Regions from separate parts of the Homo sapiens genome. Here region 1 is linked to region 2. Evidence: fine-mapped QTL for protein levels in blood plasma. Region 2 holds a variant in brackets. A gene starts in the other region. All regions are shown on their reverse strands.

Region 1 (10,470 bases), not on the chromosome of region 2:
CTCCCAGAGAACTTGGGTGCTGGGATGGGGAGGAAGGGGAGAGTTGAAAGCTAGGGGAGCGAGACCTCGGGGCGTGCGATTCTCACTCGCTCCCTCCCGCCCCAGCGCCCACAGCCGGGGTTTCTGCAGAGGGCGCGGGACGCGGGGTTCCCCGGGGCTGAGGCTGGGGCTGGAACACCCCTCGAAGCCGCGGGCGTCCTGTCCAAGGCGCCCCAGGAGGGCGCAGGACTCGCAGGGCGATGTCGCGGGGCCCTAGGGGAGGAGGTGAGGACAGGCCCCGGGGGAGCGGGGAGTTCCGGGCGCCCCTCGGTTCCCCGCGCGAGGAAAAGACGCGGCGTTCCCTTTAAGCGGCCGCCTCGAACGGGTATCGGTAGCGCGGGCGAGCGGGGAGCGGGGGGCGGGGGGCGGGGGGGGGGGGGCGGCGCCGTTTGACCAATCGAAGCTCAACCGAAGAGCTAAATAATGTCTGACCCGGGCGCAAGGCGCAGCCTGGAGCTCCGGGTCCCCGACGCTGCCGCCGCCGCGCCCGGGCGCACCCGCCCGCTCGCTGTCCCGCGCACCCCGTAGCGCCTCGGGCTCCCGGGCCGGACAGAGGAGCCAGCCCGGTGCGCCCCTCCACCTCCTGCTCGGGGGGCTTTAATGAGACACCCACCGCTGCTGTGGGGCCGGCGGGGAGCAGCACCGCGACGGGGACCGGGGCTGGGCGCTGGAGCCAGAATCGGAACCACGATGTGACTCCGCCGCCGGGGACCCGTGAGGTTTGTGTGGACCCCGAGGTAGGCAAGCGCTGGGAATGGGGCTTGGTGCAGGAGCTGCCCGTCCGCGGGAGAGAGTTGACTGGGGGATCCCCCACCCCAAAGTTGTGGGACGAGGCCAGTCTCCTTCTTTCCTCCCCTCCGGTAGAAGGGACGATTTGGAGTTACTCTTGGGGAGTTTTCTCCCCCATCCCACAACCCAGAAGGTCAGCCGGCACCACCAGGGAAAAAGGGACCCGGGGAAGTCACGAAGTAGAGGAGGGAAGGCCTGGAGGAGACCCAGAGCTGCGTGATGGGAGCAAAGACGGCGACCCGGGGATCCCTCGCAGCCCTCCCCCAGCCCAGGAGTAGTCGAGAGAGACTTAGGGGGCCAGAGCTGTCGAGGGTCCTGACTGAGGGGAGGGTGCTGGGGCTAGGCTAGGAATCCTTCCAGGGGGTGGGTGGTCCCCGCGCCGACTTGCGGGGGGAGTGGGAGGGAAGCTTGCGCCTTCAGCCCGCATCCCTTCCCCGGAGCTGCACACGGCTACCTGCTCCCCAGGAATTGAGACTGAAGTGGACTTACAAGTCCGAAGCCAATGTAGCTTGGAAAACTTGGGAGGCGGAATTCCTACCGCTGGGAACTGAAAGGGTCTGCGACACTCTCGGGCAGGCCGAACCCACATCTCTACCCATCCTGCGCCCCTCTTCTGAAGCGCCCTCCAGGGAAGTTAAGAGTTTTGACTTTCGGGGAGTGGTTGGGATGTACGTGGGGGATTCTTGACTCGGGTTAGTCTCTGGGGATGCAGAGCCGGGAAGAGGAATGGGTGAGTGAGTTACTCCTGGAAAGAAATAGCTGAGGATTGGGGGCTCTGTGCCTGACGGGCAAGAAGAAGGGGAGATTACAGACTAGGGGCATCCCTAAGGAAGAAGCCTCGGGGCTGCGAGGGTGAACTGGAGGATGCAGTGTTTGTGTGTTGGGGGTAGAGCGGGGATGAGGGACCGGGGTGGAGGGGAGGCGAGGAGGAGGAGGGGACCCAGAGAACGAAGCTAGGGAAGGTAGAGGGTGCCCTCTGCCGGCCATGCTGCCAAGAGCAGCTACTGGGGGCGGGAGGCTGGGGGTGGGGAAGTGGTAAAGGAAGGTTTTGCGGGATCCCTTAGAGAGCTGGTAGGAGGGACTTGTTGAATGGTGCTGCTGACTCCAGCTCGGTGGGGCGTGCGACTCGTCGTCGGTGGATTTTGACTCCTCGTTCTTGTTTGGCTTCTATGCAAGTTTTCCTCGCGCTGGGGGAGCTTTGATAAGCCTCGATTGGCGGTGTGTTAGGGCTTCTTGGATCTTATTTTAGGGTCCTCTAGTTATCCTGCACTTACTCCTTAATGTCAGTAGCAACCAAAGAACATTTTCCGACAAGCACGCAGGAATGTTCTTGGCCAGAAGCAAAGAAAGGCATATTTCTGAGTGTTTATTAATCCTCCTAGTAATCTTTTAAAGCAAAGTAATATGTAATTGGGAACGTTGATTTTCTAACTGCATATAAAAGGCGACATGATATTAAATGAGACCCCTCCCTACTGACTCAATATCCTGCAAAATCTCTCTCTCCCCTTTATTATTATGGAAAAATCTATTTTTATATGAGTTTGTTGTAAGGTCAAAAGCCATTTTGGTCTTACAATTTGATATGTCTTTACATTTTAACTTATTGAGGCATAATTACAGATTTAATTTGTATGAACGTGTGTGCCTTCAATGCTTATCTCATGCAACATAATTTTTAGGTTGGAGATTTCTGATGTTATGGCATGTAGCGTTTCAAGGCATTACACATAATAGGTAACATAGCATGTTGAAATTACACCACAAAGTTTTGACCCTGGGAACAGCACCTTTTAAAAACAATCACTAAACTCCTGTTCCTGTTTTCTGATTTTGCAAATGCCTTGCTTAAGACTTTTTTTTTTTTTTTTTTTTTTTTTTTTTTGGGAAATTTACCTCTGGGTTAGCAGGAGAGGTAAAAAAAAGGAAAGAGACACTTGTTGAAATGTAACCATAACCTTTACTGGAATTTAAAACATGTTGGTCACCATTACTGGAATTCCAGGGCCATAAAGTCGTTGTCTTTTTTTTCTTCTACTTCATTTTGTAAAATGTGATAAATGTTGGTAAATATAGACCAGTAGTAAGTATTATGACACTAAAAGCATTATGTATGTGGAACTATTTTAAGTTATTACAGAACATTTTCTATTTATAAATGATATAAGCAGAAAGAAATGATTTCCAGATAAACAAGGCTTACGTACATGTTTTGAAGCATTAGAACATTGCAGACACTCTTAGACATCACATTTTTTAAAGCAAAATAACAGTAATTTTTCACATACCTTTGGAGCCTTTCATAGCCCATTCAGAGCTGAGTTAGTAGCTGGAAGTTTCCTTTATTTTAAGGTGATATTTTAAAACCATTTAACATGTATAGTAGGTCAACATTGGTGCATCCAGAAAATGAAGCATTTAGGAAATCTGTTTCAGTGTCTTTTCAATGTGTGTAACTTTTACTTGCAAACCAATGGAACCAAGAAAGTCATCATTTGCCTAAAATGCAGTCATCACCTCAAATGATTCATTTATACTATGTGAGTTAATTGCCTTCATCTCATTAATGGCCAAGGAGGGAAGGGAGGTCCTGGGGTATTTCTTGTTCATTTTGACTCACCAGGAGGGAAAATCCTGTAAAAAAAGAAATGCAAATTTCTAAAATCCTGGCTCAAAGTCCGTGGGTTTCCTGTTTAAAAGGGGCGCCATGAAAATGTAAGCTATTCCCTTTTTCCTGGAATCTTTAAGAGTCCCAGCTTTTCAATAGTCAAAATGTAGATGATTGATATCATTTCTTATATGAATAGCACTGGTTTGTAGTTCAGCACGCACAGTGAGCTGGGCACGCCCACCTGATAGTATAGCAGAGAACTTGTTTACATTCTTTTTACATTCATCTTCTAAAACCTGGGGTGCTCTCTCTCTCTCTCTCTCTCTCTCTCTCTCTGTGTGTGTGTGTGTGTGTGTGCGTGCACGTGCGCGTGTGTGTAGAGGGGGAGAGAGAGAGAGAGAGAACTGTGAACTGTGAAATATAACACAGCCAGCAGCTTTGGGTCTCAATCGTAGACTTACTCTTAAGGAAATTTACAGAATGGAAAGGTCATGTTCAAGTAGTTTATTAACATTTTGAGATGTAGGAAATTAATCCCGGAGTACAGAAGAACAATTTCAGACTTCCTGAATAAAAACAGACAGCATAGAGAGTGGATGATAGCTAAACTCTGAATATCTTTTGAGAAGAAAGGCACTCCCATTTCAGGTGCCCATAATATGGATTTGATTTTAGTGATTAAAACATTAATTTTCAACTTGCATCTCCCTGTGTGGAAGAGTTCAATTTGTGTGAGGGGTCTCGCCTATCCAACAAAAGTGAATATGTCCCTTTTATAGGGTAATTGCTAACTTGTCTCAACTTGTTTTCAAACAATTGTTATAGAGCACTCAGTTTCCACTAATTGCAAAATTGTTGCTTAATTGAAGGACTCTCAGCCATCTAGTGCAGCCATTCAGCCACTGGCAGGCTCTGTGATCTCAAACTGTGAATTGCATTTTAAAGAGGAATCGAGGAGAGAATTCTGTGGAATTCTAGGTTTTAAGTGCTGGCTGTTGTTCAATGGAAGAGGAAATCATTTGAACAAGAATCGCATCAAGTTGTGTTGTGATAAATTTTCTTTATTAGGATGAATAACATGCACAGATGAGCTTCAAAAGTGAATGAGCAAACTTACTGGTTACACTCTGCATCCATTTACTCTGTTTAGTATGGAGTAATGTTAGGCAATAAATGATGCTGGCAAATGAAATCCGTATGTTATTTGCATGTGGTATTTAAACCTAGGAAACATAGAGTGGCTTTGGTATTTGTAGGCTTAGTCATGTGTGTCCTAAACGTCCTCTTAAACTTCTACTTAAGGCATAGAATTATTTAATCCTAAATAATTTTATACTTAAGTGCCTCACTGGATTTCCAGAATATTTACACTGTAAAGATTTAGAAAGGTCATGAACCCAATTATTGACTATATGGAATCATTATTGATGGCAGATGCAAAATGGAGCTCACTAATGTACTGACATTGAAAACCTTTTGCAGGGGAGAGGAGGGGGAGTGGTAAATGTGTGTGTTCTTTAAGTGGAACAGGAAGGTATTCTCTTTTCTGTAGAAAAATTTGAGTATCTGGTCAGATAAGTGTGGAAGCTTTCATTTAAATTAAGTATTTAAGTTCAAGTAGAAGCTCTAGGGCACTTATCCTCTTGATGAGACAAATCTTATCAAATATACTAGATGCTAAGAAGTGGCTCATTGCCCTGATGTCTCATTTATAGATTGATGTTTGAGGATGGGTTGCATTAAGTGAGTTAGGGGGCTGAGTGTGGGACAGGAGAACGATTGGAAGGAAGCAAAGTAAATTTACAAGCTTTAGTGACAGCCATAATAAAGTAAAAGTTTATTTCCAGAGAGCCTAGAGAGTAAGGAACGTTATATAGTTTTCCCCAAAGGTTCACTTGAAAGAACTTTTCATTGGTTGTCATGGTAGTAATGTCCTGATTTTGAAATCTCCCAGAACCTAGTAGCTCTTAAACATGCTTTCATCTTGGTTCCTTTGGTCTGACGGAAACTTTATGACGACCCTCTGTGTTTTTGACATGCCTCTGCATTTTTGGAGAGAGGAGGTCAGGCAAGGGAGGATTTCTTAAAACTAAGACAGTATAGTAAGGAAACATAAAATTATATGATAAAAAATCACTGAACTTCAAATTGACTTACTGAAATAAAACCTAGAAGGCAACCTGTCGTTTAATTACAACTAGCTTGTATAAAATTAAAATTTATAAAATGGGAATTCAAAGAAAATAAACGGGCAGTTCCAAGTAATTTAAGCAACTCACCAAAAATTGAAGTAATAGTGCCACCTAGAGAACAAAATCACCAGCTTTACTAGCCAAATGGCTTATTTCCATATGAACCATTTTTCCAACGCTACAGTTACTAGGATTTCCTTGTTACCATATTCAGATCTTGTGAGTGTGTATGGGGGTGGGGGTTGCATGTGGAATTACAGATGAAATTTTAAAACAAGCAGATCCACAATTTGATATATGCACTAAATCCTTTTAACGTTGTAATGTAGCCAAATGTAGAATAGCATGCCAGGAATCAACGGCTAGCATCCTTTTTAACATTTATTATTTTCATGGATATGTACCAAACCGAACCATTGAGTATAAAGGTTCTGATTTTATTTATTTGCTACAGGCAATTCATTATACTTTCTGAGATACAATAACACCAAATAATTTGAGTAGAGAGACCTTTAAGAATGTTTTCGATTTATGATCTACCTTTAACTTTAATGTACTCAGAAGATGTGAGAATAAAATAAAGTCAAATATAAGCAAGATTTTAAACACACACACAAAAAACAAACAAACAAGAAAAAGGAAGAAAATTATAAGGATTGCCTTAACCTTAGAATAGATGAAGGTATACATCTGAGCCAGCACCAAAAAAAAAAAAAAAAAAAGTTATGGAACCAGGAACCAATAATTACAAATTGACTTAAAATTCTTGGATGACAAAAATCTATATTTAGTTCATTTTTGCATGCGCCCACAACAGCATCCAAAACAGTTCTGGGGAGGCACTTTGATAAATGTTGCTGAATGCACTAATAGATTGATTAATGGCTGCTTCAGATTATCACTAGTGATGTAGACAGAAACTTCATGAAAATGGTTTGTCTTGCTGGAAGAAAGGCAGAAATTGGAGGAAAAGGTTTAATAATATTTTTCCCCAGTACCTATTATAAAAGTCATTTAGTTGGCTTAGTTCTATAATTTCTTATGTGTAATTTGATTCACTTATGAAATTGTGAATATATGAAATGTTAAAGTTGATTTAGACAGCAACTATAAGCTTGTGGATTTTCTTTTAAATGTCTTCAAATTTTTAAATGCCAGTGGAGATGCCAGCGACTGTGCTTCAGGGAGTAGAATATAGTATATCTTAAATTTGTGCCAATTTCTGGTAAGCAGAGAAAAAATTGCATGATAACCAAAGAAAGTCATATTGTTTGTGCTTTGTGTTATTCATGGAAGCAATCAGGTGCAGAAAACTTTCTTTTTCAGAAAAAAAAAATTACTAAAATAAAGGTGCGTGTGTGTGTATGCACATATATCTAAAGGGAGAGAGGGAGAAGGAAACTTACTAAATAAAATTTTTGCCACATGGGATTTAGTCTAATCAGTCTTGGTTTTGGAGTTGCTATCATCAGTAGTTCCATTTTGTGATTCTTTCTTTCTGCCTTCATGTGCCTTTGAAAACTGAAACTATGCCCAAATTAAAACAAGTTTTTCTGTCTTTTCACATGTTCACTTATTTCTTGAATGTGTTTTTAAACACAGACAAACTTCTTTTACATCATGTAGAATCTGAAGGTCGAGAAATTTGCAGTCATTTTGCTGGAGAGAGATGCTTGGCGGAGTCCCAGGCCACATTCCTAGGCCAAACTCTCGAAGGTATTCCTCTTATGCAACATTGGGAAAATACATCCAGCACCGACATGTTGGCTGATAATGTGTCTGAAGGCACAGACGATATGCTTATCATATGAAACATAAAGCCAGCAGATATTGCAGACATTCTGTTGAATGATAGAATCTGGATCATTTACATTTACTTAAATGTAAAATACTATGATTAAGTACAAAAAAATCAATTTAGGAGAGAATAGAGAGTTGCGGGCACGGTTTTAGGGGATGACTTATCAGCAGATTGTAGAAAGGAAGCTTGAATGTTTTAAATTAACTGCAAGTTCAGTATAAGCCAGTGGTGTGACAAGAGGCTGTTATCATAGCTACTGAAATTTTGGGCTGCACTGCTAGAAATATAATACTGAAATGGAGAAGCTAATAATTCTTCACTTTTTAAATAGACTGTATCTAGAATATTATCATCAGTTCAAGGAAATGAAATAAGTTGTTTTAGGTACATCATCGATAAATTAGTGTACATTCAAATCACTGTGACCAGGATGCATAGGGAATTTGAAAGCATTGCATGTGAGCAATGGTTGAGGGGACTTGGAATGCATGACTTAGGGACAAGAAAACTTAGGCTGGAATGGCAAGTGGTTTTTGAATGTTGGGTTGAGAAGAATTCTAAAACTGTGAAGGATTAGTAAAAATAACATTCAGATTGCTAATGCCTACTGTGGCTGGGAGATTAGAGTGTCAACATGTGTGATGTATTTTTGACATCCTTATTTTGAGGATGGGCTTCAAAGATTTGACGAACTGTCATAAGTGTAATTTGTGTTGCTTCAGACAGCAGTTCTAGAACCAATGATGTAAATTTAGATACTCTACATGGTAGTTAGAAAACTTTCCATTAATTTAATTTAGCAAATATTGAATGCTCACTGCATACAGAGCACTTTATTAGAGGAATATATAATAAAGAAAAAAGAGGTCTGGTGTGGTGGCTCATGCCTGTAATCCCAGCACTCTGGGAGGCTGAGGTGGGAGGATCACTTGAGCCCAGGAGATCATTACGAGTCTGGACAACATAGCAAGACCCCATCTTTACAAAAGACAAAAAAAATTATCCAAGCCTGGTGACAGGCACTTGTAGTCCCAGCTACTTGGGAGGCTGAGGCAGTAGGATCGTTTGAGCCCAGGAGGTTGGGGCTGCAGTGAGCCGTGATTGTCCCACTGCTCTTCAGCCTGGGTGACAGAGTGAGACCCCGTTGGAGGGAAGGAAGGGAAGGAAGGAAGAAAGGTAGGAAGGCTGAAATGAAACCCTTTTAGAAATGACACTAAAATGGGAGGTTGGAGTAAGGTATTTTCTGAAGTGCCTTTGTACTTGTTTTTTTCTAATGCATTGGCCATAAGTCTGCTCCTTATTTATAGTCCATAAACAATCCTAATGAGAACAGTTATATATTTCTGCCTTTGAATCATCTACTTGAAGTGTTTAGCATCATGAATTGAGTATCAGAAATCCCTCCCATTTCTTTGCAAAGCGCTGTATTTTACTTTTCCTTATTTGTATACAGATTCTCAAAATTGGCTATTTTTCCTTTGGGTTAGACAGAACAGAATGTCTGGAAAAAAAAGTTCTTATCAAATTCAGGTGCCCAAATTGCTTAAGAAATTAACTTTTGAGGTTATATTTTTTTAGGGTTCAGTAGCTAAACTAAGAAAACTTCTCACCGTTCACCTTCACTTTTGGAAACCACAAAATCTTCAGATATTACAGTTTTCCAAAGAGTTTCTCTTTTTAAATATAAACTAAAAGGAATTGACTCCTCCCCCAACTCCCTCAGGCCTCAGCATGGATAGAGTTACTTTTTTTCTTTAATAATTTATTTATAACTTATTTTGCTCTTCTGTAGAACAGCTGGAGATTAAGCAACATGGCCATGACATAAAATGCAAGTTAGACCATAAGATGAGCAGCCCACTCCAAGTATGAATGAGTACTTATTCTTTGTGATCTCTCATACTGCTTTTAGGTATTAATAGTGTCAGTCAGCAAAGCAAACAGTTTAATATTTACATCTCCTTTAGGATATCATATAGTTTATAGTTTGTATGTGTTCTTGCGTGTATGTTTTCTTCTGTTTCAAATTCTTTTTTCTTAAAGTAAGAATGTTATATGTAGCAAATGGTTCTTTCATTAATTCATTTGTTAATTCACCGTGCATTAATTGAGTGCCCAGTGAGTGTCAGGCACTGGGCTACTTGGATTTCTTTTCCCTGTATTGATCCATATATCTTCAGGTGCTCCTTGATATGGCTCTCCATTGACTCTCTCATATAAGGCTTTCATTACCTATTCACATACTCCCTCCCAAAGAGGACTGGTCCAAAAGTAAAATCTTGAGCAAGTTCTCTGAGTTATTTCAGAACTTCTTGCCCCCAAACTGTATTTTTAATTATTGACTGGTAGCATTTTGGAATAACTTACCTCTCTTTTTTAAAGATTGAAGTTCTTTATCCTCTCTGATTTTCAGGTGTCAGTTTGTGTACAAATTGAGACAATAAAAATGTTTGTTAGACATTTTCTTAAAGCATTTTGCTATGTGAGAATCTTTCATGAAGAACTCTTTTTAACAATGACTCTATAGCAGAAGCCACAGTAGAGGGAGAACTACTGAATCAAAGATGGTGTTTGAGTCTATGATTTTATGATGGATTTTTTTTTTTTTTACATACAAGGATATGCATGGGTCTTTTAGTATTCAGGAATCTGTTCTTCACTTGACAGTATTTATAAATTGTGTGTTTCCCCCTAAAAAAACTTAAATTGTGAGAATGCTTCCATTTACTAGAAGTTGGTTAATGATTATGCCAAATAAGGAAAATAAGACAGAAAAATCAGTTTAGTGAATACTATTTTGCCTTTAAATTTAGTAATTTAGTAACAGTATCTCTTTGGGGTTTACTAGAAACCACTTTTTAATCCAATAGGTCTCTTTCATTGTGAAGTCAGGAGGTGATTTTGCTTAAATGTGTAGTATAGGAATCTATATGTGGTGTTCAAGGATCATGTAAATATGCTGATATAATCGGAGCACAGTTTGGCATCATTAACTCAGAAATATTTAAACTCTTGCTATACAACATGGAAGCAAACTT
Region 2 (11,001 bases):
TTGAAGTGTTTTGTGTGTAATGAGTAGTACAGCAAGAAATCACTGCTAAATCCTAATGTGGATGTTAAAGAATGTTATTGACAGGAGCTACATTAATATTAAAAATAGCATTCATTTGTTTCAGAAGGACAATAAAGGCGCACATAATTTTATCTTTGGTGTACAAAACTATACAAAACATACACACGTGCATGTACCCAGACACACTAACTACTCACTCAAGACCAACTCATTCAAGTAACTCTGCTCCAGACTATCCTGTAGTTTATCCACTGCACTCATTCATTCATTCATTCATTGAAGAAATAGTTATGAACATGTACTCTGTGCCCGGCACTATTGAGAATATCACACTGAAGAGACAATTTCCTTTTTTTTTTTTTTCCCCACTTCTCCTCCTTTCTAGGAAAATTCTCACGTTTTTAATGTCTTGCTTACAGTTAACTGCTGTGACCTTGTAGAAGAAGCAGTAATCAAAATGAGCACAAGCTTAGGGTGGGTGTCCGTGGAGGTGAGACTGTGACTTCAGAGGGGAACAACTCAGACAGAAAGCAAGTTTATTACTTGGTAAAGAGCAAGGATGGTGTAAACACAACTTTCCACCTCTTGGCATACTACAACTAGGAGTTACCCTTCGAATATGGAAAAGTATAATTTTAAAGACAAATAATGTCTCATTTCATCTCAATCATAACAGATAATTGGACTTTTCCTCAAAGGTGGTTCTGAACAACAACAACAAAAATGTGTGTGTATTTGTGTATGCATATTTCACTTTGTTCCAAGTATTATTTATGTCAATAACACTTTTCCCCTGGAATGTGTACTAACTGAAAATGTAAATACATACATACACACACACACACACACACACACACGCACATCTATACATACACATAAATGTCTATATTATACTTGATACATTTAAATCCATTTCAATTATTTTTATTGATACTCAAAATGACCTTTATTTTGCCAGAAGGAGCCTCTTCAGGCTGGCTCCTGATTCTTCTGGGCATGTTTTTAGGGCTCTTGAACAGCATCTTTGTTTTCTGACATGAGAGGATGTTGCAAACTCATTTTGAACATTCCATGCCATAGACCTAAAATCAACCATTTCTTCACCAATTCCTGGTTCCTTTTAGTGGGTAATAGTATTTGGAGACCACAGTAGGGGGCTTTAGAGATGCCCATTTCTACTGGGGCTGGTCCTTGGTCTGTCCATTTTTGTGTATCTGCCAGTGTATCTTTGGGATAGATTCCTAGAGGTGGGATTACTGGATCAAATGATGAGATAGAAACATTTTAGTGAAGAATTTCATAAGCAGACTCTCAAGCTCTATTGGAAAAGAAAAAATCAAAGTTAACCACAAACATTTTAATAGAGAGAAAAAAAGGTGGTAGACTTTCCTTACCAGATACAAAAAAAAATAGTATAAAGCTATAGCAGCCGAGACGGGTGGTGTAGGCCAAGAATAAGCAAGTAGAGCAAGTAACCTGGATGCAGAGATTATACCCAGGGAAAGAACAGTTTAATCAGTAAATAATTTGCAGGAAAATTGCTTATCCTGTTTAATAAAAGTAAAAGTAGTCTCTATGTCACAGCAAAGACAAAAGATATCTATTTGGACTTAAGAAATATTTTAAAAATATAAGCATTAAGGAAAAGTATGTGAGAATATTTAATAGGCTTGCGGTGGGGAAACTTTTTAAAGCAAGATACAGGAAGACACAGGAGATAAGGATGATTCCAAGGTTTTTGCTCGAGCAACTGGAAGAATTGCTGCACGATGGGCCACTCCTTAGTGACAAATATTTATTAAGCGCGTATCATTTGTCAAGCACTGTTCTAGTCTCTGGGTTTTTATGACTTTAAAAAATACACAAAAATACCTGCCTTCAAGGAAGTTACAGTTAGGGAGAAGACTGGGCTTCTGTTTGAAGCCATCCTTGGCCTTGAAATACCTGGGCCTGTCTCCCCTGGATATCTTTGAACTGTGTCGCAGAGGGGTTAAAGTGACCTCCTTCTCTCCCAGCCTTGGCCTTCATCTCTAGCCCTTGCCTCTCCTTCTAAATAGGTGGTGATGGCAGGATTCCAAAAAGTTTTCTCTATTTACTTTCCAAGATATCACAGGGTTTCATCAGGAAGAGAAACTGTGTTTGTAAAAGATAAACAAATTCACTATCTGCTGATTAAAATTTTTTAATCTCTATTTCCCCAATACTAAATTTAATTTACATTTTGTGACCCCAGTTCTCCTGATGACAGAAACCTCACGTAGGCACATCTAAGCAAACTCAAAATCAGAAGGCTCTCAAGCACTGCACTTTTGAAAACAAAGTCACGTTGAGAAATATTACCTCTTCCCTTCCTCCCTGTAGTTGACGTGAAGCTCTGGGGCTTGGGCAAAGTTACAGCAAAGGAAGAGATACTTACCTCTCAGCTCTGACATGTCCTGTGCTGCCATCCTCTGAGATGCCCAGTTGTCTCATCAATAGTCATGATGGTCTTTGTTGGTCATCCGCATGTCTGTTGGTTAGTTTCATAACCTTTAATGCAGCTATCTCCTGCGGCTTCCAGGATCTCTTCCCATGGATATTGCCCAAGAGAGACACATCTCTTCTTGGCTCACAAGGTCTGTGGTGTCATCTACTGCCATACCTTTATTATTGCAAGACTCCTTCAGGTGTCTTAAAATTGCATTGATTCTTTCTCTGCTATACCTCTCTGGAATACATAAGCTTCTTCAGGTGCCCTCTCCTTTACCACCCAATGGAGTAGTTTTACTCTACTGCAGGGGGCCCCAGTACCCAGGCCGTGGACTGATGCTGATCCATGGCCTGTTAGGAACTGGGCCACACAACAGGAAGTGAGCAGTGGGCAAGTGAGCATTACCACCTGAGCTCTGCCTTCGGTCAGATCAGCGGCAGCATTAGATTCTCATAGGAGCGTGAACACTATTGTGAACTGTATGCGAGGGATCTAAGTTGTGCACTCTGTCCCTGTCTCCCATCACTCCCAGATGGGACCATCTAGTTGCAGGAAAACAAGTTGAGTGCTCCCACTGATTCTACATTATAGTGAGTTGTATAATTATTTTATTCTATATTATAGTGTAAAAATAATAGAAATAAAGTGCACAATAAATATAATGTGCTTGAATCATCCTGAAACTGTCCTCCAGCCCCATTCCACTCCATGGAAAAATTGTCTTCCAGGAAACTGGTCCCAGGTGCCAAAAAGTTTGGGGACTGGCCAGACGTGGTGGCTCATGTGGCAGGGCGTGGTGGCTCACGCCTGTAATCCCAGCACTTTGGGAGGCTGAGGCAGGTGGATCACGAGGTCAGGAGATCAAGACCATCCTGGCCAACATGATGAAACCCTGTTTCTACTACAAATACAAAAATTAGCTGGGCATGGTGGTATGTGCCTGTAGTCCCAGCTACTCGGGAGGCTGAGGCAGGAGAATCGCTTGAACCTGGGAGGCGGAGGTTGCAGTGAGCCGAGATCGCACCACTGCACTCCAGCCTGGGTGACAGAGTGAGACTCTGACTCAAAAAAAAAAAAAAAAAAAAAAAAAGGTTGGGTACCACTGCTCTATTGTCCGCTGTCATTATGACCAAGGGCACTTCTTTGGGATGTACCACCATCCCAGATATCCAGATGGAAAGAGGACCTGGGGACCTCTATGCCTAAAGGGAGGCTTGTCAATCATCTCTTCTGTGACAGAGTTAGGGGTGTGGAGAGAGTGTGGAGAGTTCAGGGTCTCACAGCAACATCTCACATTTCTCATTCTCCCCTAACTCTTTCCCTCTTCCTCTCCTCAGAGGTTTTTTCTTCTCTGGAGTGTGGAAAAATTTCACACTTACCAAGCATTCATTCCAAATCTTCCTGTCATTCATCAAGAGGGCAGCTTTTTAAACTTTAAGAGCCAAGAATTTTGAGAGTGTTGATTGGGCTTCTTGGTGTGTTTATTTGGGGAATGTCTCCAGTAACGTCCCGAATGCTACTCCGTCGCAGAAGCCACCCTCTGTGCCTGTCTTTGGTGTGGTCCCATCTGTACGATTTTCCTTGATCTCATTTGATTTTTGAGAAAGAGTGTGGTGAAATGTTTGAATACCTCTTCTCAAACTGCTGGCTTTCCAGATATTTCTGGAGGCATTGTTAGTTTCATTTAATTTTCCTTAAATTCAGGTTTAGCAGCTTTAGCTTTGCCTCACAAACACTAACTAAATTTAGGTAAGAATTATTGAATTGTAATGAATACCCACTGATTATATACTAATGAAGATTGCTTTCTACGGACATGAATCTCATAGTCTGAGAGAATCTGGATCTCATAGTCTGAGAGAATCTGGATCTTATAGTGAGTCTGCACCCTAAAGTGAATTGTATCAAACATTTTAAAAATCACAATATCTCCTTTTCACTTTAACACAACATAGGATGCAGTTGTCACTCTTCCTGCCTACCTTCTGAAAAACATGTAGTGTTTCTTGAATTCTTGCGGAATAAACATGAAGTTCTTTTTTAAAAATTAATTTATTTTTTAATAGGAATTTCTTCTAAGAACTTACCAGAAAATATACCCTGGTGCTTCTTTATCTTTTCTACTCATCTGTAGTGAAAAGCAACAACAGCAAATTGAATTAAATGCCAGATTCACCACTGGAGTTCTTGTGCCTTTATAGTCTGGTGTTACAAAGCATCAATGGCAATATATAAATGTCTTTTTAAAAGGTTTCATTTTTTAAAATTCTATCTGTAGAGAAGGAAGAGCATATATCATTGTAAAACAGAATTCACTTGTCCTAAAATAATAAAGTCCCAGTGTCAGATTTAGTGAATCAGTATTTCTGGATACCACCAAAACTAGCTATTTTTATGCTAGTACCGGGTGGTCCAAAAAGATGAAGTATTGAATCAATTCTACATTTTTTGGAGGAGCAAGTGGAAAAACAAATATAGGAAGCAGGTCAGCCATTATTGACTCTGGAAAAGACATGTTCTGTTAAATTTCCTTCCCATTAGGATTTTGGTGTATGACCATGCAGTGGTTTGGATAGAGATGATAGACAGATAGATAGATAGATAGATAGATAGATAGATAGATAGATAGATAGATAATTTGTGGAATTTGGATTCAGATTTTGTTCATATTTTGAGAGCCTGAGAATCAATAAAAATAATATAATAATAAGTGATAATATTGATTAAAAATTCATTCCATAAGTGTTTGTTGTACTTCATTAGCAAGCTCCATCAGCAATGTTGATGAGGATGATAGTTTTTAAATGCTTTTGAGGTTTATTGTGGCTCTGTGAGAAGATCATTGTAGGCTCTCATCTGTGCCTATTTCTGTTTTACTCTGACTAGGGCTTCCATCCCTCATGCCTGTGAAATACTAATGATCTTTGCAAGTACTGCCTTACGTAAGAAGAGAAGCACACAGTAGGCAAGACAGTACACACTCATATTAACTTTCCCCATTTCATTACAGCAAATTCTTCTTCATGCTAGAGAAAACTCAACAAAAGTTGTATTTCTCATCACTGATGGATATTCCAATGGGGGAGACCCTAGACCAATTGCAGCGTCACTGCGAGATTCAGGAGTGGAGATCTTCACTTTTGGCATATGGCAAGGGAACATT[C/G]GAGAGCTGAATGACATGGCTTCCACCCCAAAGGAGGAGCACTGTTACCTGCTACACAGTTTTGAAGAATTTGAGGCTTTAGCTCGCCGGGCATTGCATGAAGGTAATGGAAACCTAATGGCATCACAAAGGTACTTTTAAATGAGGCTTCCTTGCCTCTCACTGCTTGAAACCCATGGGAGGGTAATATCAAACTCTCACAAGGTCTTTGCTGAATATGATGCCCATGTGTCCTTTGGGCATCATGAAATGTGCTGAACTTCACAGAGATGACATTCTGACCTTGCAACAAGAGTTCCTTTTGTTTTTTTTCTTAGCAGCTGTTATGTGTTTTCACTAAAATATCCATATGCTCCCACCTTAGAATCAGTGGAATGAATTTAGGTGTGTTTTGAGGCCACACACAGAGTGGGAAGCCTTGACTTAGATCTCTTTACAGTTATCTGGACAGAGGAAGTAAACATTCAGAGACATGCTCAGTGAAACTTACCAGAATGTTTCCAGAAATACACATGAAGATACAGGAACAATAAATACTTAACACATACTTCTTGCCCTGACCATTTGAAGATAGATATGCTTATGTAAAAGCTTAAGAGCATTAACCCTAAAAGGGAAGGAAATCAGCAAATGTATCATTATTAGAGCTTTCTGTGCATCACTTATAATTTAATTATAAATTATAATTTAAAAATTAAATCATAATTATACATTATAATAAGTTAGCTGTGTAATATAAATTAAACTTCCTATCAGAATATAGGTTTATGTCTTAGTGAGCTAGGAGAAGAAAATACAGACTAGGAAGAAATCACAGGAAATCTAGCCTCAGATTAAAGTGATATGGCAAATTAGGCTTGATCCTTGCAGATATCCATGTGAAAGATTCAGTTTGAGGGGAAAACCATGGCAACATGAGTTCTAAGAAATTAGTGATGTTCATAATAAGTGGGTTAGCTCTACTGGAGTTTCTTTTTAAAAAAAATAAATAAATAAAGATGGTGTCTCGCTATGTTGCTCAGGCTGGTCTCAAACTCCTGGGCTCAAGCATTTCTCCCACCTGGGCCTCCCAAAGTGCTAGAATTACAGACATGAGCCACCATGCATAAAGCAAAAAAGATTTATCTCTCTGAGGGATGATGCTGGCCAAAGTTTTTGGAGGCTGGGATTTTAGTGAAGTGAGCAAGGACTTAGGACAGGGCTTAGAAGCAGCAAGAAACTGAGTATGGGAAATAAAGTATGGATTTGCGTTTAAACAGGTTTGGATCTAAGTTCCAGGCCTGCAACTTAATGAAATCTAATTTTTAAGAGCTAAGCCTTAAAAATCCAGAATGTCTGGATTTAAATCCCGATTTTGTTACCTACTAGCTGACGTTTTCTGTTTTTTTGTTTGTTTGTTTTGTTTTTACATATCATTCATCTTTTATATTCCTTAGGTTTCTTGTAAATAGAATAGGAAATGAGAATAGTACCTACTTCATAAAATTGTTACAAGGATTAAATGGGTTAATACATATAAAGGGATGAGAAAGTTCCTGATGGCTTGTTATACTCAGCACTCAATAACTGTCTACTATTACTGATATTTATTATTTATTAACAAATTATCATTATTAATTCCCCTAGGCAATTTATTTAACAACTATGAACCTCAGTTTTCTCTCCTTTAAAAATGGAAACTATTATTATATGTATCACAGAGGTTTTCAGGAGGATTAAATAAGATATTTAAAACATCACCAATATAGTATGTAGCACATGGAAGAAGTTCAGCAACTGGCTACCTTTATTTCTCCTTTTCTCCAAGGAAAGTGATATGTTAAGAGGGAAAACAGGGTGGTTGCAGTTGGAGATACTGGGTGTTGCCAGATGGGATTATGAAATTATGAGTGCTATCAACAAATTTCAGCTCCTGTCATCCCTCTGTCTTCTAGGAGTGGAGACTTCTGTCCTGATGGAAGTTGACCCAGAAACTAGAGTCAACAAGGAAAGGGTTTTGGTTATCATAATGCAATAGGGTTTTAGGAGACACCACATTTATTACACTAAACTAATATCTAAAATGTGTAATACTTTAGTTGAGTTTCTAGGTTTAGTAAGTAAAACCCTGTTTTTACTGGAAAGACATGATCAGATCAAAGGAAATGAGCCTCATTTCCCCTGCCTCTGTGTTCTCTGCAGCTACTTTCAATTTAGATGGATCCACTTTGGGTTTCACTGCTGTTCATGTTTCTGGCCATTCTCGATAGACATAGGTTACAGAATAATAGCTTTCCCCATTTGTACCTCCTCCACTTATCTCTCTTCCAGACCTGAATGCTGGTACACTAGTCTTGACAGCTATGTTTGTCTTTTCTTTTCTTCTCACCCTTTTTGATACAGGGTCTCATTCTGTCACACAGGCTATATAGTGCAGTGGTGTGATCACACCTCGCTGCAGCCTCCACCTCCCAGGCTCAAGTGATCCTCCCACCTCAGTCTTCCAAGTATCTGGGACAACAGGCATGTACCACCATGCCCAGCTAATTTTTTTAAAAATTGTTATTGTTTTTGTAGAGACAGGGTCTCACTGCATTACCCAGGCTGGACAAGTAGGTTTTCCTTGCTCCCTAACTTGCTTTACTGCCAAATAAACCTGTGGTCCAGTGTCTCAGAGCTGAGTCCTAAGGGCCTGTGTTACAGATCTTTTACCCACACCACAGTCTATTGGAAGGAGCTTACCAGGGTACCTGGTTGCACTGGTTTCTTTCCCTTGGGGCTGGAATCTTCCCTTTGCTTTGCCCCTATCTAGATGCATGGAGATGGATGTTCTATATTTGAGTCTACCACCAATCTCCTTCCAAGGTGTCCAATTGCAGCCCGTGTGTCTTGCTGGAACTCACCCACTTGAATTCCTACTATAAGCCCATCACAATATCTGGGCTTAGAGCCCCATGGACCTAGTATTGGAATTTAGTCTAAAACTTTCAAACTTCTTGAAAAGAATAAAGGACTTACTGTTTGTGTGATTCTAGGCCATCCATTCTGGGTCAATCATATTCAACCTTACCCACCCTGTCAAGTCACTTTCTAAACAGGTCTGCCTGAGTTATTGCATTCCCAGCATGCCTCACTTCAGAGCATGGCTCAAGTAATAAGAATGGTCTTTATTTACCTACTCAAATACCATAGAAGTGACAGTGTTTATTCCAAAGTTGGTGGCTCACAATTAACATCTCTGTGCAGTGATCAGGATGGTGGCTTTGTTTCTCATTGGAACAAGGATCTGGGGACTCGTTGCTGGGGCCTGACCTCACCCAGAGGCAGTGGAATGCTGCTGCTTTGGAAGCCAGGGGAATGACCTGCAGAACTGACTGCACTGTTTCCTGCAGCATCTGGAGATTCCTCACTACACTACTTAATTTCTGCCTGACCCTGAATGGCCTTGAGAACTTATGATGAGGTCCCAGACTGGAATAACTTAACTGGCTTCAACGAATTCCCAGAGCGCGCTAGTACAAATAACACACATTCGTATTTGGGTGGGAGCAGGAAGCAGTTGGGAATTAGAGGGATATGGAAAGATATTTTCTCCAGCTTGCACTTAAATTTTAATGACCAGAGAATGTAACATTGAACTGTGACTCATTTTTATCGCCCTCTGTCATATGTTATTTGTAGATCTACCTTCTGGGAGTTTTATTCAAGATGATATGGTCCACTGCTCATATCTTTGTGATGAAGGCAAGGACTGCTGTGACCGAATGGGAAGCTGCAAATGTGGGACACACACAGGCCATTTTGAGTGCATCTGTGAAAAGGGGTATTACGGGAAAGGTCTGCAGTATGAATGCACAGGTGAGTCTCCAATCTGTGTATATCAGTTGTCTGTTGCTGTGTAACAAATGATTCTAAAATGCAATGGCTATAAGGAATACATGCTTGTTATTGCTCATTAGTGTGTGGGGTCAGTGGCACATCTCTTTGGGGCTTCAGCTGTGCTGACTCATTTATTTGCCATCAGCGGTGAGTTGAGTAGGCTGCTGGCTGATCTCAGCTGGATTCTCTTATGTGTTTGGGTGTCTGACAATAGTCTGACCTAAAATGGCTTTGTCTAGGACAACAAGGCTGTCCTTTATGTGGCCTCTCATACTCCATCAGGCTAGCCCAGGCTTGTTCAGGTGGGGACGGCAGGGTTCCAAGAAGAAGAATGGAAGCTTGTAAGGCCCCTTGAAGCCTAGGTTCAGAACTGGGAGGAGAAAGATTTGGGGTCTTTGTAATTAGTCTAATAAAACAGCCAAATCTGTCCTCTAGGCATGTAAACCAAAATGTGCCTCAATCTCTCTATGAGATTGAAGCCAGTGGAATTCTTGTCCCCAGGCCACATGTAACTGGTAAGATTTACACATAAAAAAATGCATCCTTCACTTGATGGCTTTTTAAACTCTTCAGGAGCCTCCACAAAAGTGCATTGAAAAGTTCTAAAACTGCCATCACTTCGAAATGGAATTGGAATGACTACTATCAAAAAGACAAAAAATTACAAATGATGGCAAGGATGGAGAGAAAGAGGCACTCTTAAACACTGTTGGTGGGAATGTGAATTAGCATAGCCATTATGGAAAACAGTATGGAGGTTCCTCAAAAAACTAAAAAGAGAACTACCATATGATCCAGCAATCCCACTACTGGGCAGATATTCAAAGGAAAGGAATTCAGTATGTCAAAGAGATATTTGCATATGCATGTTTCTTGTACCACCATTCATAATAGCCAAGATATGGAATCAACCTCAGGGTCTATTCAATGGAAGAACAGATAAAGAAAATGTGGTCTATATACACAATGGAAGACTACTCAGCCATAAAAAAAGAATGAAATCCTATCATTCGTGGCAACGTGGGTGAGCCTGGAGTTGTTAAGTGAAACAAGTCAGGCACAGAAAGACAAACACCACATGTTCTCACTCATATGTGGAAATTTTTAAGATTTGATCTCGTAGAATTAGAAAGGAGAAGAGTGCTTCCTAGAGGCTGGGAAGGGTAGAAGGTATGGGGGATGAAGAGAAGTTGGGTAACAGATATAAATTACTACTAGATAGGAGGAATAAGTTTTAATGTTCCATAACACTGTAGGGTGACTATAGTTAACAAATAATTTATTGTACATCTTCAAATAGCTAGAAGAGAGGATTCGAATGTTCCCAACACGAATAAATGATAATTGAGGTGACAGATATGGTAATTGTCATAATGTGATCATTACACATTATATACATGTTTTTAAAATATCTTACTGTGCCCCATGCGTGTGAATAGTTGTTACACGTCAATTAAAAAATAATAATGAATGGGATTTATTTCATTGA

Direction of the effects. Alleles are on the strand shown, and positions count from the first base shown. The strength of an association depends on the size of the effect and on how common the allele is.
For the plasma level of the protein whose gene starts at base 485 in region 1, C is the low allele of the variant in region 2 and G is the other (weak association).

Evidence for each region. PIP is the chance, under the fine-mapping model, that this variant and not a neighbour inherited with it causes the effect. The UK Biobank Pharma Proteomics Project read protein levels with antibody pairs (Olink). The fine-mapping took linkage between variants from a reference panel, not from the people measured, so its PIPs are less certain.
Region 1: BDNF starts here. The variant in region 2 is fine-mapped to the plasma level of the BDNF protein (UK Biobank, PIP above 0.99).

Annotation. Positions count from the first base shown.
Region 1 is chr11:27,690,470-27,700,939 of GRCh38, reverse strand. BDNF (brain derived neurotrophic factor) reads left to right here and starts at 485. Exons shown (of 2, transcript NM_001709.5): 1 at 485-776. It overlaps BDNF-AS (BDNF antisense RNA), which reads right to left. Exons shown (of 7, transcript NR_033315.1): 7 at 2,769-3,462.
Region 2 is chr9:110,544,605-110,555,605 of GRCh38, reverse strand. It overlaps SVEP1 (sushi, von Willebrand factor type A, EGF and pentraxin domain containing 1), which reads left to right. Exons shown (of 48, transcript NM_153366.4): 2 at 5,502-5,757; 3 at 9,315-9,491. Among named protein-coding and RNA genes, the nearest start is that of SVEP1, 30 kb to the left of the region's middle. The variant C/G (reference allele first, on the strand shown) is at 5,655.